4 linked regions of the Homo sapiens genome follow. The protein of the gene in region 4 interacts with the protein of the main gene of each other region in a pairwise test. Each region holds a gene or a part of one and is shown on either strand. Other genes may lie near its edges.

What was found.
Region 1: the proteins of MEIS2 (region 4) and BPIFA1 interact in binary tests that used the Homo sapiens proteins (3 or more experiments, as listed by UniProt).
Region 2: the proteins of MEIS2 (region 4) and MCCD1 interact in binary tests that used the Homo sapiens proteins (3 or more experiments, as listed by UniProt).
Region 3: the proteins of MEIS2 (region 4) and VGLL1 interact in binary tests that used the Homo sapiens proteins (3 or more experiments, as listed by UniProt).

What each region holds. Positions count from the first base shown.
Region 1 is NC_000020.11:33,238,972-33,243,818, reverse strand, and holds the end of BPIFA1 (BPI fold-containing family A member 1 precursor), read right to left. Parts: intron 4,017-4,847; coding exon 3,909-4,016; intron 3,587-3,908; coding exon 3,434-3,586; intron 2,435-3,433; coding exon 2,350-2,434; intron 1,764-2,349; coding exon 1,700-1,763; intron 1,333-1,699; coding exon 1,292-1,332; 3' UTR 1,258-1,291; exon of another isoform or gene 1,150-1,257; intron 735-1,149; exon of another isoform or gene 713-734; 3' UTR 513-712; downstream 1-512.
Region 2 is NC_000006.12:31,524,688-31,530,759, reverse strand, and holds MCCD1 (mitochondrial coiled-coil domain protein 1 precursor), read right to left. Parts: upstream 1,799-6,072; 5' UTR 1,746-1,798; coding exon 1,575-1,745; intron 1,014-1,574; coding exon 825-1,013; 3' UTR 528-824; downstream 1-527. Other genes in the region: spliceosome RNA helicase DDX39B, read left to right, coding at 310-326.
Region 3 is NC_000023.11:136,535,203-136,542,238, forward strand, and holds part of VGLL1 (transcription cofactor vestigial-like protein 1), read left to right. Parts: intron 1-793; 5' UTR 794-818; coding exon 819-1,032; intron 1,033-7,036. UniProt on the Homo sapiens protein: May act as a specific coactivator for the mammalian TEFs.
Region 4 is NC_000015.10:36,894,536-36,901,571, reverse strand, and holds part of MEIS2 (homeobox protein Meis2), read left to right. Parts: intron 1-4,885; coding exon 4,886-4,944; intron 4,945-6,310; coding exon 6,311-6,421; intron 6,422-6,759; coding exon of another isoform or gene 6,760-6,818; exon of another isoform or gene 6,819-6,855; intron 6,856-7,036. UniProt on the Homo sapiens protein: Involved in transcriptional regulation. Binds to HOX or PBX proteins to form dimers, or to a DNA-bound dimer of PBX and HOX proteins and thought to have a role in stabilization of the homeoprotein-DNA complex.

The sequences.
Region 1 (4,847 bases), on a different chromosome or scaffold from region 4:
AACAATTCTCTCACCTCAGCCTCTCGAGTAGCTGGGACCACAGGCACACACCACCACCCCTGGCTAATTTTTGTATTTTTGGTAGAGATAGGGTTTTGCCATGTCAGTCAGGCTGGTCTTGAACTTCTGCCCTTAACTGATCTGCCTGTCTTGGCCTTCCAAAGTGCTGGGATTACAGACGGGAGTCACGGCACCTGGCCTTCATTGTAGTTCTAATTTGCATTTCCCTAACACAAATCTGCCATTTTCATTCGTGGTGCGGCAAACTTGTATGTCATTAACTGTACCTGGAGTATTATATCTACCCTGAATGCCTTATTCCCCCTTTCTAAGGACACCTGGGAAAGCCTTCTGAAATCCACACACACTTGAACATCTCCCTGACCTGCTCAAGACTATTCAGATCTACAAAGTAAGTGCCAAACTCTATGCTATGGGCCCAACCACCCAGGCCAGGGCTGTTTCCAACCCAGGAGCCCTCAAGTAATGGTGAAGGATGACAAGGCCCCTGATGCAGAAGAAGAGCCATTTTATTAGGTGAGGCACATGGGATGTTACACACGCCTGGTGGGAAAGGAGAGGGGGCAGGTTCCTCGGAGAGAAGGCAACTGTGTCATCTTCCAGCACATGGGCCAGCCATCTGTGAGCACTGGGAAGCTGGGCCAGAGGAAATGGATTGAGCAGCAAGAAATAGTTCTGTTGGGGGAAGACCCTAATCAGGATGGAGACTCAAGGTCAGTGAGCGTTACTGATATTGACTCATCATCAAACTCATGCCCCAGAGGGACAGGAGGAGGCTGAGACCCTGGGCAAGCCATCAGGCCTGGAGTCAGGGCTCTGTGAGCATGTGTTTGAGTGAGTGTGTCTGTGTATCCACGTGTACTTATGTGTGGTGAGTCCACTGATGTGTGCATATGTGTGAGGGTGCTGGGTGAGAGTGTGTGTGTCTGTGTGTGGTGAGTCCACCAATGTGTGCATGTGTGTGAGTGTGCTGGTGTGAGAGTGTGTGCATCTGTATCAGTGGCCATGTGTCTGGGCATTTGTGTGTGTGTTTCTCTTGGTAGCTGTGTTGCTGTGCTGCCTGCATCCTTCCACCTCTGTCAGCTTTTCTGTGGATTTCTCTGTGCATCCCTGTGTGTACCTCTGTAGATGTTTGTCTCTTTCTTTGGATGTCATTGTCCCAAGCTCCCGTCTGCCTTCTACCAGGAGAAGAACAGCCAGCCCCCAAAACCCTGGGGTGTGGGGAAGGGCACTTACCAGCTCAGCAGAGGCCAGCCCCTTCCTGGAAGGCTTAGACCTTGATGACAAACTGTAGTCCGTGGATCAGCATGTCTAAACAAACAAACAAGCAATAAAAAAACAGACGACAGTTATGATCTCAACGTGAAGGAGTCCATATTCCTCAAGGTGGGGGGCCAGGGAATGGAGGCCTCTGGAGATCCGACTGTGTTCAGCATGCTTGGAGGAAGCCAGGCCTCCTTCTACCAACCAGCCCAGCTGTCCTCAGTGTCAGGGCTGAGGCAGGAGACACGGTGTCTATCTCAAAATTATCTGGATTATTCGGGGGAAAATGAAGCCCAAAATAGAGAGAGTTGAGGCCAGAGGGACCTAGTATCCTAGGGTGTGCAGGGAAAAAACTCCTTGGGGGAAGTTGCTGCTCCTGCAGAGAGGGACAGAGGGCTTGAAAGCAGGTACTTACTAACAATGTCATGCACCAGGGTGATGTCCAAGCCTCTGAGAACCTCATTGACCAGAGGGCACACCTGGCCAGGGGCAGAGAGGAGAGTTAGGCAGAGTGGCACCCTGGAGCAGCAGAATCCCTAGTGGGGGTTCTCTGGGGAAATTTCCTGTCATTTTTCTGTGTGAAAGTGATTCTAAGCAATCCCACAGATCAATGGTCACACATGCCTGAGGAGAAACTGGAGGCATGAGGGATGTTGTGAAGGGCCCCAAATCACACAACAAGCCCAGTGTTCACCCTGTGACATCACATCTGATTCTAAGTGGAGTGGAGTGCCCTGGTTATAGGAGACACCCAAGCATAGGTTGAAAGACTGTCTGTGGCCATAGAAGGCTGGACAGGGAACTTCTCCAATTTCTCAGAACAGGGGCCAATCCATTTCAGCTTCAGTGTGGACAAGCAGGGCCTGGCCTAGAGCAGAGACTCATCAATGCATTTGGAAAGATGTAAAGAAGAAACATGGACAGATGGATCAATGGACAAATAGATTGATGAATGGAAGTTACTTATCAAATTGAGGGACTCGGACCCACTTAGCTCAGGGCTTTGTTTTAGTGCAAGAAGCTCTAAAACCTGAGGATCAGGGGATCCCCACCTTGCCTACTTACGTTGCCCTGAACCAACTCAGGCAGGACTTTATTCAAGATCCCTGTGAGGCTGTCCAGAAGACCTTGAATGGGGAGGGGGCCAAGTCTGAAAGAGAAAAGTCATGGGTGATGCAGGGACCTGGAGATGGTGTGGAGAAGTCTCCAGAGGGGGCCACTGTGAACCCCACAGTCTCAACACTCAGTCACTAAAGCCGAGCCTTGTCTATCTACACCCACGTGCAGGCCAACAGCAAGGGTCTTATGTAAAGGGAGTTACATTTGTGTACAGCAGTGAACACACAGGTATGTGTAGGATAAACACATGGTTCTCAGAAAAAGCAGGTGCCAATAAGGCTTTGCAGAGTCCATAAATGAATGGATACTACTTAGTATGTAGTTGTCATTATGATCCAATGAGATGACACATGTGAAGCCCAATGTATGTGTTCATTAAAAGTTAACCACGTGGGCAACTTTTGCGTAATAGGTTTGACACAGTCTCCCCATGTGACAGGTAACTGAAATAAATAACCTAGTTAGGATCCACGTCTATTTTACCCCTTACTGGGACAAAGCACTTTCACACCTGTTATCTTGGTAGGTTCTATCAATAACTCCAGTGCAGTTCCATATTGCAGATAAGTAAGCTTAGAACTAAATTGGAGAAGCACTACCCAGGTTCACACAGGAAGCCCTCTATCCCCATTCCCCTGTAATATGCAGGGCTTAAACTCCAATTTCTTGTTGCTAGATCCAGCATAAAATTGGTTAGCTTGGTCTAAGAAGGAATAAGTACTACTTTATCTATCTATCTATCTATCTATCTATCTATCTATCTATCTATCATCTATCTATCCATCCATCTATCTATTCATCCTTCTCTCCATCAACCCAACCATCTAACCATCTGTCCATCCATCCATCCATCCATCCATCCATCCATCCATCCATCCATCCATCTTTCCACGCTCCCTCCTTCCCATCCATTTTCCCACCCTTTCAGCCTCTCACTCATCTATTCTCTCATTGTCTCAGCTTTCCAATCATCCATCCGGCATCACACCCTGTCATCTCTGGGCAGGATAAGCTGCTCCTCTGGCCTCACCCATCAAGCAGAGAAATTTGCAGGCTTCCAGGGGAATGGGTGCAGTCACCAAGGACCAGGTGGATCCTCTCCTGCTTATCTCTCACAGCTAAGATTTCTGCAGTGATGTCCAGCTTCACAGCCAGCCTCAACAGACTTGCACCGACCAGGGGCCTGCAAAGGAGACAGCCCCACTGGTATCTAGCTCCACCACATTCCAAGGAAGAGGGTTATTTTCTCCTTGCCAAGAATGCTAGCCTCACCTCACTCCATCTTGCCCACAGTTGTACTTATCTCATTTTCTAGCAGGAGAAACAAAGACTTAAGAGGTCAAGTGAGTTTCCCAAGTGACCCAAGGCCACTTAGCATAGCAGCAAATGAGCTGAAGTTGGAGGCTCAGGTCTGTTAGACTCCAATACCCCCGTTATGGTTAACCATGGTCACCAGGGTCTCCCTCGGTGAGCCATCCTCTCACCCCCTCTTGGGACCCACTCACGTATTCACTTGGAGCTTTATGCCGAGAGGGATGGTGACATAGAGACGGTGGCCATCAGGGCTCTGCACAAGGCCAAGTTCCAGCAGCTGGGGGTCAGTGACCTTTATGCTGTCCAGGGAGTAATATTGGAGGGGGAAACATTAGCTCCTCTAGCTCCAAACCCAGAAACCATCTTTAACCTAACAGTACCCATCCCAGAGGTAGAGCTTCCCACCCAGGATAGGGAGATGGGAGGGGAGTCTTGCAGCCTAAGCCACGTGGGTTCTGAGTCACACACTAGGTCTTTTCCAGCCTCTGCCCTGGAACAGATCTGACACACACACAGGGCCCTTTCCTTATCTCCAGTCTATGAGGTATTCAGGACAACAACTGTGTCTGGATTATATCTGCATCCTGTATGCCAGCTAAGAGCCTTACAAAGAAAGTGGCTACTTCATATTAGTTGACTGGATTGATGGGAAGGTGGGTAGTGGATATGTGGGTACATGGATGGAAGAGTAAGTGATTAGGTAGAAGGATGGATAACTGGATGATGGATTGGTCAGTGGATGAATGGATGATGCAGGTGCAACTGGAAGTAAATCTGCACAAACATTTATGGGTAAGAATCACTCACCCTGTCAGGTGGCCAATCACCAATGTTTATCATGGGAATTGAGGAGCAGGAAGTCAGGGAGAGTGCAGAAAGGGTGGAAGGAAGCCATTCTCCCATTGTCCTATCTTTCCAACCATCCATCCATCATCACACCCTGTTGTCTCCAGGAGAAGCCAGGCCTGTGACCGCACCCATCAAGCAGGGAGGCCATTTGATGGGTGAGGCCATTCACTGAGCCAGCCACTGCGCCAGGTGATTTACACCTTTTCCAGTCCTCACAATACACTTTCTCTGTGGGTTCTATAATCTATATTTTACAGATGGAGAAACCAAGCACAGAGAGA
Region 2 (6,072 bases), on a different chromosome or scaffold from region 4:
AACCCTTTAGGTCCTCCCTGTTCCTTAGTGTGTTTGTCCGAAATCCCATCACATAGGTCATGGGCATCTGATGCATAATGGACACTTGACTGGTTCATGCCCCCTGGTCTTTGATGCTGTGTTGGGATGTTTTTCTGACCTTTATGTGGGGTGTCTTGTCTTCTCTCATCATATTACATCCCTTCCCTCACCCCCACGTCCGTCCTCTGAACCCAGGCAGTACACCAGTGTCTGCATGTGTGCCGTGTGTTCCTGCCTCACTTTCCCCTTTTCATGCCTTATTCTGACCATGCTACGTTTTCTTCTCAGTTGAACAGACACGGTAGAAGACTCGCCCATTTTGGAATGTGACCGTCTGTCCTTCAGGAGAGGACACCAGGGTGGGGGTGAAGGAGACACTACTGCCCCCACCCCTGACAGCCCCCACCCCATGGCTTCCATCTTTTGCATCACCACCACTCCTGAACCCCCATTTCTGATTTGTCAGAATTTTTTTTTAACAAAACTAAAAATGAAACACATGTGTCTGTGGTATCTATAAGTGCTTCGTCCCTTTATTGTATTTGGGGTGAGGTTATTTTAGGGCATGGTCCAGGGTGAATTCCTATAAGGCCTGGGTGCCCTGCCTGCTGTGAGATCAAAGGGGAATGGGACTAAGACTGCAGAGCCCTGGCTCCCCCACTGCCTGCCAATTGCCTGCGCTTTGTGGTCTCTTCCACTTTCTCTGGCCTGGGAAGACGCTGGGGTGTTTATGATCCCAAGGCTCCTGGTGGGTGGTGCGTGTATTTTCAGCGCCGGAGGGTGCTGTGGGCACTGGGGGAAACTTAGGCGCCTCCTCCAAGGCTCTCTTGGTGCCTCCTCATCTGTTCCTTCAGCTTCTGGATCTTGAGCACCAGGGCTTGGGCCTCCCAGGCTCCCTCCTGCCCTTCAAGGAGGGCCTGGTACAGCTCCAGCTGCTGCTCCAACAACTCTTCAGCTCGGGCCAGCTCAGCTGTGCGGTGGGTCCCAGGGCCCTGGTCAGGGAATTAAGGGAGGGAGCATCAGCCAGGGCAGGGGGCTGAGGCCCTGGGAAGCTTTGTTGCAGGCTGTGGCTGGAAGTGAGAAATTCCACCTTCCCTATTCGTTTTTGAACCGGTCGTTTAAGGACACCTGTACTGAGAAGGCCAGGTAGCTTCCTGTCTTGGGCATAGGCCTCTGGGTGGTAGTAGGGGGAGCAAATAGAGTTCCCTGGCCCAGGGGCTGTAACTGGCTTCCTTGAACAAGGATATGGGGTCACTGGAAAGAGGATCAGCTGCTCCTCCCCGCTAAGAAATAATTAACTGTTAGGTGAGGGGGAATAGATCCTGTTCAAGGACTTTGTGGACTGTGCTGTTGTGGGTGGGGGTGGGGTGAGGGAAGGGAACCCTGAGGTCTGGGCTGGGGGAGGTGGGGAGAGGAGTTGGTAGCTGAACTAAGAAAAGAGCTGCAGGGGTAGGCATGGTGTGGGGTGGTGCAGGGTGGGATTGAGGGTTTTTTTTTCCCACACCCCAGTGTAAATTCTCACACCCTCTGTTCCTACCTGTGGTGCCACTTACCCTGGGAGGGGACGTCATCTTCCCATTTCCTCTGGAGCTGGTCTGCTCTTCCATGCTTGCTTTGGGGTTTTGGGAGCAGCACCCATGGGAGCCCTGGGGTGCCAAGGACCAGGAGGGCAGAAGGAGGCGAAGGAAATGGTACCGAGAGAGCCAGGGCAGAGGGAGGACCATGGCGGGTGACCTGGCAGGGAGCTGTGTGAGCTGTCCAACGGCCACCAGGAACTGGTTCGCTCCAGGACTTGGCCTCACTTGAGTGCCTGGCCCTGCCCAGGCCCCAGCCCCCAGCCCTGCCCCTGCCCCTGCCCCACTCTGCCCCACGTCTCTCCCAGCCTGGCCCCAGACAGAGTCCAGGAACAACTCCTGTTCCTGATGTGAAAAATGTCCCTGCCAGTTTAGGCAGAACTTGCTTTAGAGCACTGGTGCCCAGCCTACCACAGGTCTGTGATTTTTTTTTTTTGATCTAGTGTTTATTAGGTATGAATTTTACAAACATTAGCGGTAGCTGTGGAGCTGGAGAGTATTGCACCTTCTCCAAGCTGCATGGCGAGAACCACCAATAGTGTGGTAGAACTTACAGCCCTTTCCAAGGCCGTGGCTCTCTTGGCCTGCAGATAGCCTACGCATCTCCCTATGCTTGTTGTGGACCACTGGGTGTCAGGTTTCCTTCTGATAGTGTTATGGAATGGATCAACTAGGATAGCCTCAAAAACTTTGTATGTGGAATCTTTAACCAGCCCAGTGAGAATTCAGGACTCAGAGCCCCACAGTGGCATCCAGCTTGCTCTTCTGTAACAGACTGAAGGCTTTAAGCAAACTAGCTGGTTAACACCATGATAGACAGGCTTGCTGTTAAGTTGCCTTCTTAGGAACTAGATTTTCAGCCACCGTGGCGCTTATATGTAACATAACCTTGCTTGGCTGTAGCCCAGTAGCGTGCTTTATTGGGCTGGGTGGGGCGGGGATCCCTGTGGAGAGCAGAGAGCTGGTGGTACTGCCAGCAGCGGACCCTCAGAAGAAAGCTCATGACATCAGACTGCTTCTTCCATAGCTTCTGGATGTACTTGTATGCACCATCTTGGTTTACCCAGTGGCTGCTGCCAGACAGAAAGGAAAGGCTACCACAGGTCTTGTGTCTTTTTTTTTTTTTTTTTTTTTTTGAGACGGAGTCTCGCTCTGTTGCCCAGGCTGGAGTGCAGTGGCGCAATCTGGGCTCACTGCAAGCTCTGCCTCCCGGGTTCACGCCATTCTCCTGCCTCACCCTCCCGAGGAGCTGGGACTACAGGTGCTCGCCACTACGCCCGGCTAATTTTTTGTATTTTTAGTGGAGACGGGGTTTCACCGTGTTAGCCAGGGTGGTCTCGATCTCCTGACCTCATGATCCGCCCGTCTTGGCCTCCCAAAGTGCTGGGATTACAGGCGTGAGCCACCGCACCCGGCATTTCTTAACACTGTCTTTTCTCACTTCACTCTGCAAGGTAGGAATTACCTCACTGGTTTGCACCTGAGGAAACTGGCTCAGATGGTTTCATTCAGCATTCACTGGGGAAGTGTCTGTTGGGGGCAGCTCTAGGCTGGATGTGCTCGAAGGTCCATAGCTGGTTGTTGGTAGGGCCTGGAGGGTTCATGTCTAGGTCCACCTGACTTGAAAGCTCATCCTGACCTTGCTTAAGTGCTGATTCCCCTTTGCAGATGTACCTTTTATTGTGCTTCCCTTTATTGCTCTTTGCAGATGCTGTTTTTTATTTAGAGATTGGAGGCTTGTGGCAACCCTGTGTCAAGCACATCAAACAGGTCTATTGGTGCTATTTTCCCAACAGCAGGCAGACATCATGTCTCCATGTCACGCTGTGGAATTCTCAAAATGTTTCAAGCGTTTTCATTATTATACTTGTTACAGTGACCTGTAATCAGTTACTGAAGTTAACTATTGTGATTGTTTTGGGACACCATGAGCGATGCTCATATAAGACAGCAAACTTAATGGAAAAATGTGTGTGTTGTGACTGCTTCACCAACTGGCCATTCTCCCGACTCTGCTTTCCAGGCCTCCCTATTCCCTGAGGCACAACAATATTGAAAGGAATAATCCATGCGGCAAATGGCAAACATCATTGTCTTATTTTAAGAAGTTGTCAAAGCAGCCTTCAGCAGCCATGCCCCTGATCCATGGAGGCAAGACCCTCCCCCAGCAAAAAGATCAGGATTAGCTGAAGCCTCATATGATGGTTAGCATTTGTTTAGCAATTAAGTATTTTAAAATTAAAGTATATGGCCAGATACAGTGGCTCACGCCTGTAATCCCAGCACTTTGGGAGGCCGAGGTGGGTGGATCACTTGAGGTCAGGAGTTCAAGATTAGCCTGGCCAACATGGTGAAACCTCATCTCTACTAAAAATACAAAAATTAGCTGGGCATGGTGATGGGCACCTGTAGTCCCAGCTACTTGGGAGGCTGAGCAGGAGAATGGCTTGAACTCAGGAGGCGGAGGTTGCAGTGAGCCAAAATCGTGGCACTGCACTCCAGCCTGGGTGACAGAGCGAGACTCCATTAAGTATATACACAGTTTTTTGTACACAATGCTACTGTACACTTAACAGACTACAATATAGTACAAACATAACTTTTATGCACAATAGGAAACTAAAAAGTTTGTGTGACTCACTTTGTTGCTATGGTCTGGAAACAAATCTTCAGTATCTCCGAGGTATGCCTGTCATTTCCCTTTCCCTCTTCTTGCTGGCCCAGAATGACCTTGTTTCTTGCCCCTGTCTAGCCCTGCATGCTGTAGGGGTTTGCCTTCTCTGGTAGGTCTGGGCACTTTGTATCCCTTGTAACCTTGGCTCCTGGGATATGACACTGGTACAACTGGCCTCAAGTTCTGTTGGACTAGTGAGCCTCCCCCAACACCTCCTGAAGTAGAACCAAAGGCCTGTGCACACACCGTGCATGTGTGAGTCTGCATAGAGATGTCAGCTTCCTGCAGGGTGTTCTGAAGGGATGTCCTGTTGTGACTGGACTGTGACATAGCCACAGGCCCAGAGGCAGGAGTGGCTCAGAAGGGAGTGGCTGGTCCCAATTTTGATCATCTAGGAACAGGAAGGTCCTTAGAAAACCATGCCCCAGAAGGCAGGATTGCTGGAGAGTGGACAGCTGCTAGCCAGCTCGCTATCTGGATATCACTCTGCATTGGGAGGGAAGATGGCCTCTGCCATGGTGTAAGAGTCCAGGAACCAGGCAGTGAGGACTTCCCAGCGGTCAGTGCTTCTCACACTTGCGGGCCAAAGCACCTTTAGATGAGGCCAAAGACTTTACGTTCCTCATTAGCTGACTTTTTCCCACTTAAGTGGAAAAAGAACCCAGAACCTTTGTAAAAGTTTAAGGGGAGAAGGGCTTTCCCTCTTGTATCTTGGTGATAAGGTTATGCATGACTCATACTTTAATTGCAATGTGTACACAGCTAAAGTCTTAATTATTAGAATATAAGAGCCCCAAACTACTGTTATTATAGATAAGCGAAACTATGCAGTATATGGTTAAACAAACCACAACTAATTAACATTGAAAGTTGGCCGGGCGCAGTGGCTCATGCTTGTAATCCCGGCACTTTGGGAGGCCGAGGCAGGGGGATCGCTTAAGGTCAGGAGTTCAAGACTAGCCTGGCGAACATGATGAAACCCCGTCTCTACTAAAAATACAAAAAATTAGCTAAGCGTGGTGGTAGCCACCTGTAATCCCAGCTACTTGTGAGGCTGAGGCAGGAGAATTGCTTGAACCTGGGAGGCGGAGGTTGCAGTGAGCTGAGATTGTGCCACTGCACTCCAGCCTGGGCGACAGAGCAAGACTCCGTCTCTCAAAAAAAAAAAAAAAAAAAAAAAAAAAAAAAAAAAAAGAAAAGAAAAAAAATTAACTACATTTTTGGGAGGTGGACAGAGCAATGCTCTGTCACCCAGGCTGGAGTGCAATGGCACAATCTCTGCTTGCTGGAACCTCCGCTTGCCGGGTTCAAGCAATTCTTATGCCTCTGCCTCCCAAGAAGCTGGGATTACAGACGTGTGCCACTATGCCGAGCTAATTTTTGTATTTTTAGTACAGACAGGGTTTCACCATGTTGGCCAGGCTGGTCTTGAACACCTGGCCTCAAGTGATCCGACTGCCTCAGCCTCCCAGAGTGCTGGGATTACAGGTGTGAACCACCGTGCCTGGCCCTCTATCTGTTAATTTAAAAGATTAGCAGCCATTTAGAAAAAACAACAAATGAGACTTTTGCAAGACAATCTAAATGATACACTAATAACAATCCTTTGGGAAAGTGACATTTCAACCATGTGAGTTTCTGCTTTAGGTTATGAACTCCAAAATGGACTAAATGGACTAACCCCCAATAATTTATAGTAGCTAGTTTTTTTTTTTTTTCACAGTAGGTAATTCTAAACCATAAATAAAATAGAATCTGAATTTTGGCTTTGTTCACCTGTGGGAACTTAATTAAGAAAGCACT
Region 3 (7,036 bases), on a different chromosome or scaffold from region 4:
CAGTTCAATACACAGCTATTGAGCATCTACTCTATTCCAGGCACTGTTCTAGATACAAAAGATGTGCTGGGGAACAGAGCTGACAATCTTACAATCTTTCAGGAGGTTTCCACCAATGGTGACAACATTGGTATAAAAATGTTTTTTTGTACATCTGCATTTTGTTCAGAATATATCTGTTGGAGTCCTTAGAGATGGTGTTGTTTGTAATTGCTAGTTTCTAAGATGGGATGCGGGTAGGTGTAGGACACAGTCTTACATAGATTAAGGCGTCAGGGGAGTAGGAGAATTTGATGTGTTTACTCCTCTGCGTGCGAGTGGTCAAGATGGAAAGCAATGCCTACTATTGAAATTGTCAAGCACCGACTGGATTGCCTGGTCAAGCTCTCCATGGGAGCCCATGGTAGTTCTGGGCCAACCTTGGCTCATTCGTTTAGGAGAAAGGCACTTCCCCAGGAGGCAAGTTACTCTGCTATTTGGCCTCAATGTCCTCCCACCTCCCCATTTCCTGATGCTCTCTCTAGTCAGGTTGCCTGATCATTCTCATTTGTAAGAGAAGGCCCCTTCTCAGCACTTCATGGAGATTTGTCATGTTGTCCCTTGAAGACTGATTAGACAAGGCTTCTCAACAGCATCGTCATTGACCTTTAGGAGCTATGTGGCTCCCTGGGGCCCCAGTGAGCACGTGTACCTGGTGGGAGCAAATTGCTTGCCCCCAAGGACACTGCTCACCCAAACCACAGCCAAGCCACTTGGTAAATAGTGCCAGTGACATTTTGCCTTTGGTCCACAGCTGTCACCTGTGTCATTCACTCACAATGGAAGAAATGAAGAAGACTGCCATCCGGCTGCCCAAAGGCAAACAGAAGCCTATAAAGACGGAATGGAATTCCCGGTGTGTCCTTTTCACCTACTTCCAAGGGGACATCAGCAGCGTAGTGGATGAACACTTCTCCAGAGCTCTGAGCAATATCAAGAGCCCCCAGGAATTGACCCCCTCGAGTCAGAGTGAAGGTGTGATGCTGAAAAACGGTGAGCATGTGGGGAGGGAGGGAGCTGGGATTCCCTATCAAGGCTGCCACGGATACACCAGTTCTTTGATGTACTTGACACACTTGGACACTTATATGTTTGCTAAAGGCAAGTTGCTCTGACTAGTGAGAAGCCACACCCCTTCTTAGAAGTTTAATGTCAAAATGGGGCTGCCATCTACTGCTCCAACCTTACCTCCCCAGCACTGTCCTCCAGAAACTGGCTTCCTTCTGTCCGTCATGTTCGCTTTGATTTCTTCCTGGCCTTTGCACAAACTGTTCCTTGTCTGCAAATCTCTTCCCTCCCTTCTCCTAATTAACCCACATTCATCCCAAGATCACTTCTTTAGGGCAGCTTTCCCTGACCACCCACACCCCCAAGCATTCAAATATCCTATTACAGATTCTCCTACCGTTCTTTAACTCTCCTTCACAGCCCTTGTCACAGTTGCAGTTTTTACACTTGTATAATTATTTGACTATTGCATACTCCTCCATTAAATGAAAGTTCTGTGAGGGCAAGGACCATTGCTGATTTTGCTTAATATTGTATTTCTAGCATCTAGAAACAGTGACTGTGACATAGGGGACAACCAACAAGGATTTGTTGAATGAGTAAATGAACATACAAATATGCAAATTTGTGAGCACTGTATCTAGGTACAAAGAACCTTGAAATTTCCATAAAAGACTAAAACATAAATTAGAATCTTGCTGAATAAGCCATTAGAGCAGAAGTATGTTATGATAGTTTTTAAATGTTGATAATATTTACATTTTATATAATTTATTTCCATAAATGGAAAGTTCCCAGTTGTAGAGAGGTGGTTTTGAAAAGTTTTAAAATCAAAGCTGGCTGGGTGTGATGGTTCACACCTGTAATTCCAGCACTTTGAGAGGCCAAGGCAAGAGGATCACTTGAGGTCAGGAGTTTGAGACCAACCTGGCCAACATAGTGAGACCCTGTGTCTACAAAAAAATTTAAAGAAATTATTCAGGTGTGGTGGCTCATACCTATATCTCTGGCTACTAAGGAGGGTGATGCAGAAGGATCACTTGAGCCTGGGAGGTTGAGGCTGCAGTGGGCCATGATTGCACCACTGTACTCCAGCCTGAGTGGCAAAGCAAGACCCTGTCTCAAAAGAAAAAAAAAAAGTAAAGCTACTGGAAAAAGAAAAAAAGAAGTTTAATGTAAAAATGGGTGCTGTTTAATCAAATCAGTTCACCTATTTTATTATTTCCTCAATCATGTTAAATGCTGGGTTTACTGCTCAGCACACAATGAAACTCCACAACTATTTACTGTAATCATTATCAGTATTTTTCTTCATCTTCTGTTTTTTAGAGACAGGGTCTCACTCTGTTGCTCAGGCTGGAATGTGGTGGCGCGATCATAACTCACTGCAGCCACGAATTCCTGGGCTCATGAAATTTTCCCGCCTTAGCCTCGCAAGTAGCTAGAATTACAGGTATGCGCCACCACACCCAGCTAATTTAATTTTTTTTTTTTTTTGTAGAGACAGGATCTCGCTATGTTGCCCAGGCAGGTCTTAGATTCCTGACCTCGAGCGATCCTCCCACTTCAGCCTTCCAAAGTGCTGGTATTACAGGTGTGAACCACCACACCCAGCTAGTATTATTATCACTATTATTATTACTATAGGCCTGATGGGGCAGGAACACCAAAGCATCTATGAAAAGAAAACGCATGTCCCATGTAGGTGCTCCCAGCCTCTTCTCAACTAATAGTGCATGGTTTGGTGAGCAAGGGTAGGGGCCAGAGGGAAGTAGATGAATAGTCTTGCCACATCCCTTTCCCACCCTTCACAGGGCCAGGTGTGTCTATTTGCTAATTGTTAAGAAATAAACAGTCGTACATCTCAAAACAGTTACTTCAAGATAACTAAGTCAAAATGTGCACATCAAAATATCCAGGTTTGAAGGAAGCCTTAAACATCACACTAGCAGGGGCTGTAGTATGACTTTCACGGACCCTGGACACTTTTGTCTTCATGGACCTCCTTCCTCCACAAAAACATTAAAAGTTACATTTTATGACTGCATTGGTATAAAGATGAATATAATCCAAGCTGAGTTCATGTTTTAAATATATTCAGTATCACTGTCATATTCATTTTTTCTTCTGATTTTAAAACATTTTTGTGGGCCCCTAAAACTATTAATGGGTCCTAGGCACTGTGCCTCCTGTGCCTAATGGAGAAGTCACCCTCGCCAGCTGGATGTCACTCAATATGGCTCCCTTTACCTTTTTGGAAAGTGAGCAAATATATCAGGGTCTGGTGGATTTCAAGAGCTCTTTATTGGTGTTGGTGAGTGCACATGTTGAACGACTTGCTCCCACTGGAAGACGTACGTACCTCCAAGTAGGGGCTTTTGTGTAAAGTGGACAAGTGGGGCCTCTGCCTCCAGGCAAAGAGCTCCCCTGTTTCCAGATGCCATCATTCTGGCTTTGCTTTTTGGGACTGGAGAGGGAGTTGATGTGTATCTGATGTATTCACCTTTGCAGAATTTACTTCTCTCTTAGAATTTACTTTTGCAGTCAATCAATGTGGTTTTCTCAGAGAATCTTGTGGGTTAAATAAATATGTGGAAGGGCATGGGGTAGCAGCAGATACTAAAGGAAATGATGTAGAGCTTGCTGTTAAAATGGGCAGGAGGGGGTGGGTGGGGAGTGGGGAGGTGATGTCTAAGAGTGTGCTGAATAATCACAACAGAAGCAGGAATGACCATGGTCTTGAATCATTTGGGGGATTGACATGTGGTAAGAGCTGAGAAATGTGGTGTGTGGGATTCAGAAGATCTAACTGACTCCTTGGAAGTGTCAAAATCTCGGGCAGTTAATACACAGACAAGTATACTGACTTCGGCTATTTGACTCTGATTTATTTCTGAACACATTGGCTTGGATTCATTATAATCATTCCCTTGTAAGCATCATCAAGCCATGGTCTCACTTTTTCTATTCTACTTGCCTGGTAAAACCCAAGCTGGGATAAAACCAACTCTTGGCCTATTGCCCCATTTCTCTGCTTCATTTTGCAGCAAAACTCAAAATTGGTATTTATGTGTACTCTGTCCTTTCCTCTCATGCTCTCTAAACTCCATTCCACTCATGCTTTCAACCTCATCACTCCTTGAAATCGCTCTTATCAAGGTTACCCAGTGACCTCCACTTTCCAAATCCAATGGTCCCTATCTGTCCTCATCTGATTTGACCTATCATAACATTTGCTGCAGAAGATTGCTCTCTCCTCGTGAAATACCTACTTCGCTTGCAGTCAGCCCATAACATTATGCTTTCTTGGTTTTCCTCCTGCCTCCCTGGTTACTATTTCTTCTCAGTCTCCTTTGCTATATGTCCTTCTCTCTCCAACTTCTAAACATTTCAGGGCCCCAGTACTCAGGTCCCAGACAACTCCTTTCTCTGTCTACACTTACTGTCTTGGTCTTAAATGCCATCTATATGTTGAGCAATTCCAAATGCATATCTGCAAACCAGAATGGATTTCAGACGTGCCTGTCTAACTGCCTACTTGATCTTCACTTAACATGCCTAATAGGAAACTCAAACAAAATAGCTCCCAAACTGAATAAACTCTTAATTTCCCCCTCAACCTGCTCTGCCCACAGTCTTTCCCATCTCAATAAATGGGAGCTGCACCCTTCCAATTCCTTGAAGTCATGCTTAACACCTCTCTGTCTCACACCCCACATCCAATCCTTTTGGAAATTGTGTAGGTTCTATCTTCAAAATATCCAAGATCTGACCGCATCTTCTCACCTCCGTTGTCACCTGGGTCCTAGAAGCTATCATCACCCCCCGCTGAATTGCTGCAGTCACCTCCTAATTGGTCTCATTGCTTCTTCCCTTCCTCTCCTTCAGTCTATTCTTAGGAGGGCAGTCAGAATGGTAGCATTAAAATGAAAGTCACACACTAGCACTCTTTTGTTTGAAACCCTCTGACAGCTTCCCATGTCACTTGGAATCATATCCAAAGTCTATAATGGGGCCCTACCTCATCTGGGCCCCCGTTGTCTTACTGATCTCATATCTTACCACTTTCTGCCTCACCCGCTCCAGTCTAGGCTCCTTGGTATTCATAAACTATGCCAAGGACAATCCTGCCTCAGGCCTGCCCTTTGCACATGGTCTCTCCTATCCCTGGAATGCTCTTTCCCCAGATACCTGCATGGCGTCACCTTTCTCCATTCAAGTCTCCACCTGGATGTCACCACTTCAAACAGTCCTTGTCTGAGCAACCTATTTAAAAAATGAAAGCCCCCACCCTCTCACGTCTGTCTTCTTACCCTGCTTCATTTTTCTTCTTAGCATTTGTCACCACCGGGCACATTATATGTTGTATTTCTTTCTAGACTCCTCTCTCCCCTTACCCTCTGAGCTCCGTGGCAGTAGGGACTCAATCTGTTAACTGCTGCTTTCTAAGTACCTACCACAATGCCTGACACATGGAGGCACTCAATACATACGGCTTGAACGAATGAAATTATGATTTTGATCACAAGGTGTTGACCCTACAGATGGGGGTCACCGTAGAGAGGGAGTACGGTGTGGTGTACAGCTTTAGAACCACTCAGCATGGGGCCAAGCCAGCTCCATCACTTACTAACAGTGTGATCTCCAGACATATCACTTCTCCTCTCTGTGCCTCAGTTTCCTCATCTCTAAAATGGAATAATATTGAATTATAGGACTGTGCTTGTGAGGAGTCAATGAGATAATGCATGTCAAGTGGCACATAGTAAGTGCAATGTAGTCCAAGCTTGAGTTGAGTTTTTGAACAGCTAAGATAGATGTGAGGACCTGTGTTCACAACACCAGGTTCACAGAGCAGCAGGCATCTCCCATAAGCCTCCAGGTTTTCAGGGGGTTCTGTTTCATGGCTGCCATAGAGTTTCCTGTGCCTTCTGATTTCACCTCGACCTTCTGTGAAACCCCTGCCTGCTGAGGGAAGTTGGGCATGGCCCTGTTCCTTGCCCAAGCCAGCCTTCACAGGCCAGATAGAGAGGTGGCTTGGTTCTCCATCTTCCTTCTTGGTTGTTGCATTTTCCCTATAAGAACCCCACAAATCCTTTGACTGTGAAGATGTTGTCTCCCTCACAGAGTGTGGTGCGGGCTAGGCAAATATTTGTCCGCTGATTGAGCAAATGAAGGAAAAACTGCCTCCCTCAAAGCCTCTCTTATCACCACTAGGAGTCAAGTTTCTCATAAGCTCTGCTGCCTCAGGGGAGGGCCCCATGAAAGGCTTCCAGTCCCACAGAGGTTCTCACTGGAGGTGTTATATGACATACATATGGCTTTGAAAATGGTGGGAAATCTTTCAAGTGGCCTTTCATTACTGACTGTTAGTATCCTCTCAAACCCTACAGACCAGCACCAGGCCGTCCAGCCCAGCTAGGCCATTCCAAGGAGAACAGGCTCCCATTCATGGGCTCCCATGGCCGACTCGCCCACATTCTAAGGGCTCTCTGTTGAGCCAAATATGCAAGTCCCAAACACAGAGACCCGTGTGGCTAGGAAATGCCGTCAAATTTCCTGGCTTCTCTTCCCCAATCAGTGTTGTGTTTTTATTTACTTATGTATAATTTATACTGGCTGTACTTCAGAAAAGAAAATACAAGTTGAAGGTATCTTTGAATTATCTCCCTTTTAAAAGGACATTGGGAATTTTAGAATCAGTAACTAGAGAAGCTTCAGTAACTATAGTTTGTAGGGGGCATGGTCCTGGTACGTATGCCACCCTGTGTTCTTCTTGTCCTGTCCCCAGCCCCAGTCCTGAGGCCGGCCTCAGGCCTGGCAACATTGCTCTAGGGCTGCTGAGAGAAGGTGAGAGGGTATATACGTGGGCCTTTAGAGGTCTCAAAGGATCCAGCCTCCTTCTCTCTCCCCTCCCATCTGCCATAATCAGTAAGGGTAGGGAAGAAATGCTGGCTTTTTTTAAAAAAAAAAAGTGTAAATATCTATG
Region 4 (7,036 bases):
TGTCCCTAAGTAACATATGAATCTCATTCATTTACCTTACTTTGCTCACGGTTGTCTGTGAGAAAGGAGCCATTGTCTGGTCACCAGTGGAAAACTTATGTCTGCGACATGACTCCATCATTTGCGTGCCCAAGTTCATCTTCAAAGGCATTAAGCTTGCCTTATTCACTGATTTAACCATTTTAATGTATCTTACTGAGAAAATCCTACTCTCAGCTGTAACCATAGCACAGAGAAATACTTGCTTTTTTTGTAAAGTAAGAAAACATGGAGAAATTTGATAAGTGACTTGCCAAGGCTGAAGTTTCATCATTTGAAACACCAGCCAGGAGCAAGTGCTGTGAATAAGCACTGTGGCTGATGGGTCCCAGGGCTGGGGACAGTAGGGAAGCAGGGCCTTTTCATGTTTTAACAGGTCCCCGGTCACTGAGCTACCTACGCCTTTCCCCAGTTGATCTGATCTCTCTTCAACGGTTCAGTCCCCTTCCCTGCGCAAAGCAATCCATGCAGAATCTTCAATTCCAGCTATTCTTGATTCCTCCTCAGAGTGTTCAGGGATGGCAGCTTTCCAGGTAACTCCATGGAGGCCTGCACTTTCTAACAAAAGGAATGCCTCCAAAAGGAGTTGGTTACCAGGTGTGGCATGAAGTTAGTGAACCAGAAAGAAGGGATTTATCCGCCATTTAAAAAGATTGGGGGGTGGAGAAAGAAAGGAATAAAGAAAAGAAACCAACAACAAACAGGAATGACACCTAAATCTACTTCTATCAATCTGAACCATACTTCGGAGTAAAAAGTCTTTAAAGAAAAATCATGATGGTCAGAGTTCAGTTGTAGAAAAGTATGCAAAGCTACCAAGTTTAGACTTTCTGAGGACAGGAGAGGTCTCTGGGAAATAGCTCTTCAGCAAGGCAGTAAGATGAGATTACAGTGATATTTGCTACCTTGGGTTTATTTGTTTTAATGTATTTTTTCATCTCTGAGTTGAGTCAGAAAGGCCTCGTGATTCTTGGAACATCATTGAATTTATTTCTATAATTAAGTTATTTTTAAACTAACAGTCTTAGTATATAATTTTTAAGGATCACACATACTCATGCATTTTCTACTTAAGTAAAATTTAGAGAAAAAGTAGATAGTCTTAGTAGATACTCTCCCAAGCTTTTGTATGGGCCTGGATACTAACTTTGTGTTCAATACAAATCAATGGAACTAGGGCTCTTTAGGGTATTCATTCCCTAAGGACTCACTAATGAAATTATGTGTAGCCCTTTAAAAAAAGTCACAATGAGGCTAATGAAAATTTTTTTTCTAAGTGAAATCTAGATAGAGCTAGACACTAAGCTTACTGGTACATTTTATGGACAAGTTGTAAAAAAACTCAGAATGTTTTTTAAGAACTGTTTAATATTGAAGAAGACTTTGTAACTTAAATTGTTTAAACCGATAGAAAAGTAGATTATATGCCTGCAACTTCGAAATCATTCTGGTATGACATTAAAACTTAGAGAATTTTTTAATATCAGATACAGATGAAAAATCTAACAGTCTTTGGATTGGAAATAACTTGTGGGGGTTTTCATTAAAGTTGGGTGCAGCTTGCTGCATTTTGGTTAGTTGGATGTCTTCAGCAATTTTTCAAATGTTTTGGGTTTGGCAAAGTCCAAAATGTTTTTTGCCAAGACCCTCTTTTCCCCTTATTTTTTAAACCCGTGTGAAATTCAAGGATAACTTAATCCATATGTGTCTGATTCATTTACACTTAACTCATCAAAATGTTATTTTATAAGGCCCATTTAATATCCATGGAACCTTTTGAGTCTTTTTAAGACAAGTCTTTTGTCTTTGAACCAGCAAGTTACATTTTTCCATATGAATGGAGCCTGAACCTTGAAAGACTGAAGATGAGTTGATTTTCAACTTAGCTTCTTCAAATTTTACGTAAAATCAAAGCTTGATATTCTATTTACTACTTGAGCATTGAAAAAGGTCATTCTAAAAAATATAGATTAGAAGATGTGGAAAAAAATTTATTTCATGTAATTTTGAGAAAAGACCATATATGGAAATTTCATCTTACAAATATTAAATAAATAAAAATTATTTCTAGTTTGATTTGTTTTAGTCTATAATTTAAATGGCTCCATGTTATGTATGTCAGTGTATTTTCTAAGAGTGGCCTCTGAGTCATCAGTACTGGTAGGAGGCGGTAATTTCATTTTTTAATGTCAGGGTTTTCTTACAGTCAGCTCATTAATTGTTAATTTTCATAGTAATATCTATGATGTCAATAAAATATCCCAAGATCAGGGGAATTGACAATTGGCAGGAGTTGCATGTTAAGAGATTTCTGAAAATTTGGGGCCCATATGTTTTTAAAATTCTGTGTGATTTGAAAGAATGTGGTAGAATTATGAATCTGTCAAGAAATAGCACTATGGATCAAAAACATTGTTTGAGAACAAAAATCCAGAGAGGCTAAATGGTGCCCAAGTGAAAAAAGCAAAATCTCTGTGACCCTTTTTAAAAGGACCTAGTGAAAACCTTCAGAGGCTTCTATTCATATTTGCTTAGGAGAAGTGGGTAAAGAAAGGCCATTGCCATAACTGCTAGTGAACATCCAGTCCATGCCATGGTAACTAGTTGAAAATGTTATACTGGAGTGGCATTTCCAAGTTCAGTGCTTCTATAAAGACCTGCTAGCTCACAGAATGCTTTTTTAATGTTCTGCATTGTTGTGTGTCCCCCATTGAACAACCTTTTGAGCGGACCTCGTTTTTACTAATGTAAACATTCTGACTAGTATCCAAAGAAATGACCTTTGAGTGAACCTCTAACCTTCCCCGTAAGTATTTGTTTGAAGACAGTGTGGAGTTCTCCTGCTGAGAACTAAGAACCATGATGCCTTGCAGCTCTGTGAGTAAGGGAGTGTTTGGGGGAACTGGAGAGAAAGACATAAATAAGGGAACAACCTCCAGATGTAAAGAATAAAAGAGTGAAATTAAAAAGGGAAAAAAATAGCAATTCGTTTTACCCGAAGAGTTAGCCTATACCGAAAAAAAAATAAAAATAAAAAACGCAAAACACAAAAACCAGGATTAGTAGCACATAAAAGGGGGTAAAACCCCTGCCGAGTGTTGTCCTCTATTAGAAACTTCAAGGAGAAGAGCCTTCTCTGACCCTCCTGAGCATCTCTGCTGGTTTCAAGGTGAGCTGATAAAAACGGTTCCTGGGGTGGAAATATCAGGTCAGTCCTCCTTGGTTGCTGTAAAAGTGGTGGGGAAAGAGTAGATAATTAAGTTCTTTTTCTGATTGGAGGAGGGATGCTTCTGGAAGTCTTTGTGATCTAGTCAGATATTCATTCCTCAGCAACATTTCAGGTGACAGGTGGGAAGAAAGATGCAGTTTCAACTCTCCTTTTGTTTTCACCTCTACATAGCTGATCACTTTCTTTTTTGACAACTGAGCTACACTTTCTTAAGTAATAAAGAAGTCCATTGTTTTGCAAACAAACACCATATGCAAAAGACTCCTTTGGTTTTCTCCCAGCTATTATTCCTCAGCTTAATTGTATTCCCACCAGAGTGCTCACAGGAGGCCCGACCGAGTGGGGCCTGACTGTCCTCCTCCAAAGGGACTTCAGCTTCCTCGGAACACAGAGCTGCCAGCACACACTGAATTTTTCTGGCTAATTTCAAAGAGTGAGTTTTCAGTTCCTGCCTGTGGCCCCAGGTGGACTCATTAATCATGAAGTCCCCCTGTGCTTAAGATCTGAAACTGGAAATATTGACAGATGTTATCAATGGGTATATTTTTAGGGAGAAGCTAGCTGGATGCTCCCTGCTCCTCCGAAATGCGTGGTCAGTGAATCGTGTGCATGAGCTCAAATGTGTGGGGAATACACGTCGTTAAGTGCACAGGGACAAGGGTAACTCACAAATGGTAGAAAATTGTTTTGTTTTTATTAAATTTGGAGAAATAAAGGAGATTTCTTATCATCTTACTCTGTTTGTACATGAATATTTGATGGGCATTATTAAACATTAAAGTAACATGAAGTAGGCACTTATTTTTGGATTTCCAACAAAATTAGATCCAGGCTTCTTAGATGAAATAACTGCTTCTCCTTTGCATTCCTGCGATTCAGCCACCACCTGATTTGCAAACGTTTCTTGAGCTCTAATATCAAACATGTGTACCTGAGGCTCTGTCTTTCTAGTGGGTTGAAAGGTGGCTGGGTTTATGGTTGGCAGTTACCTTATCCTCTGCCCTGGGTGTCCCAGCTTAGGCTGGAAAGGCTGCCCCCAGCTGGCACTGACCTCTGAATGACCCCTAACTTTACAGGCTTAAACTGCAGGAGTTGCCGAAGAGCAGAAGTCTTTCTGGCCAGCACTTATTACTGCTGTGTTGGTGATAAAACTTCAGACAGCCTAATTGATGGCTTTGCTGACCTAACAATACCTTGTGAAAGCCGAGTGCTAGAGCCTGGTCTCCATTTATGACCAGCTGCAAGGGGAAGCTGGGTCTCCCTATCACGGGGAGTCTAGGGAAAGGGGGAAAGTCTTCCAGCCTGTGAACTTTAACCAGATTCCTACTTGTGCAAGAAGCAGAAGCACAATTTGAAGTTAATAGAAGCTTTCTCATGGAGAACTTTATTCCGTCCCTGAGCTCTTCTAGCAAGTTGTTTTGGAGTTGACTACGCAGTGACGACGGAGATTACCCAGTCAACTATTTTTGAACGCTGAAAGGGAAAATCACCTTTAAATTGAAAAGATAATTTTCAGAAGAGATTTGACTGTATTTTGTGCTCCTCAGCATTCATGCAAAGGTGTTCGCAGAGTACAGAAACGGAGTATGATGACTGGACTTCTCTGTTCTCTTTCAGGTTTATTAATGCCAGAAGAAGAATAGTACAGCCCATGATTGACCAGTCAAATCGAGCAGGCAAGTTCCAAGTAGTATCTATATTTATGTCCCACAGGCACAAATCCTCATCAAGTTATACTCCAGTAGTTTCCTCATCTGATAAATAAGTGCTTCCACCAGGCATTCTGGATTTTTTTTTTTAATGTCCCCAGAATCCCACTCAAGGAAGCAACTTCAGTAAGTGGTGCTAATTGGAGATTTCCCACCCTGACTCTACTGACACTGCTTTTTATTTTCTTTCTGAATTGGTAATTGGGCACAGGTATTAATGCCACAAGCAGCGTGTTTGTGAGCTCTGGCATTACCCCTTGCTTGTCTGCATCCAATCATTAGCACACTCTCATTTTTCTGTTACCCACAGCTCCTTGGTGTATGCTAGGCTTTCCTTTCTGTAGCATCTGCTGTTAAACTTATTGTATCCATTCATTTGCTTTGGCTATTCATAATATCCTATTAAAGCCTGACTTGCTGCATTGCCACCATTATTTTTTATTAAAGAATATTACCTTTGTATAAAATGCTTCACATCCATGCTGCTAAAATACATGTGAGCTTTTCTCAGAATTCTCTCAATTTCTCTAAAACAGTTTTTGTATGGTACTATCAGAACCCTCCTGGTATACTCCAAGTCGTTTTATTTTGAAACAGACATTTCCTCAGTTTACTGAGGGTTTGTGGTCTCCTGCAATAAGGCTTATAGGGAAAAACAGTTTTCCTTGGGGTGATGACTGCTGCCACTAACAACGGTGTTAAACTTGATGGAGATTTTACCTGTGGCCTCGCTTTAAAGGATTTGTGAAAATTAGTCATCCTTTGGCAAAATTTCCCCAATAACGCCAAAATATGTTCCCACTATTGGAGGCTAGGGAGAAGAACATAAAACAATGGAAATATTATATTTACTAAGTTTATATTTCCTTGGTGTGAATAAAAAGGCAAGCTTTTAATTGAGTCTATTTAACCTTGTGAAATTGTATTCAGGTTTAAAATGTTTGTGTAAAATATGAACATTTTGTATTAAGCCACCAGAGATGGCAGCCTCAGAGAATCCCAACCAAATGGTACATTGCAATATTTGTATATGGGGTACCCCTAACTTCTCCAGCCTTCGTCCCCCTAATCAAGAGATAAGTAAAAAAGCAAGGGCTGCAGAGGACGAACCCCCTGGGAAACTGGCCAGTGAAGTCTTTCTTCCAGAACATTTTTAAAGCTACTCACACACCTTCACTCAGTCATCAAGACACTCAGACAAACCACACCCCCATTTGTAGAGTGCCAACCACATTGTTGCTATAACGTTTCAGTGCTGCAGCGGGAACAATTGCTGATTGTTTGGTATATCTTTTCTTCTTTCTCCTCTGTGTCCTCGAATGACCACAATCAGGTTTTCTTCTTGATCCTTCAGTGAGCCAAGGAGCAGCATATAGTCCAGAGGGTCAGCCCATGGGGAGCTTTGTGTTGGATGGTCAGCAACACATGGGGATCCGGCCTGCAGGTAGGTTGGCTCATCCCGCCTCTGGGCTTCCCTGGGAAGTGCCACCTGCTCCACCAGCCTCTCCATCCACTCTACTATCCCACTGTCATGGTGGGTTTAACATTTGCCTGCTGCCTGCTCTGCCTGCTTTCTTTACATTGGGTGGGGGAAAAAATTCCTCTTTGAAAAAGTAAAGATTTTACCACAGTACCATTATACTCTGCCCCATACACATCCTTTTTCTTTTTTCTTTTTAAACCAAGGCAATAAGTGAAAAGGAATCTGAGTTTCCTTCTATTTTTTCACCATCAATTATTGCTGATTTTCCGGCCTCTTCTTGGATTTTATCTCCTTTCTAGGACCTATGAGTGGAATGGGCATGAATATGGGCATGGATGGGCAATGGCACTACATGTAACCTTCATCATGTAAAGCAATCGCAAAGCAAGGGGGAAGTAAGTACAGTCGGGTGCGATCTGTCTTCACTATCACTTCAGAGACTTTATTTTATTTTTTATAATTTGCCCCCATTTTATTTTTCCTTGCCCATAACTGCATGCCTTTCCAAACTAAGGACCTGTTTTTAAATATATATCACCCATCTCTGAAGTCACAGATGACACTGATGTGCACTTT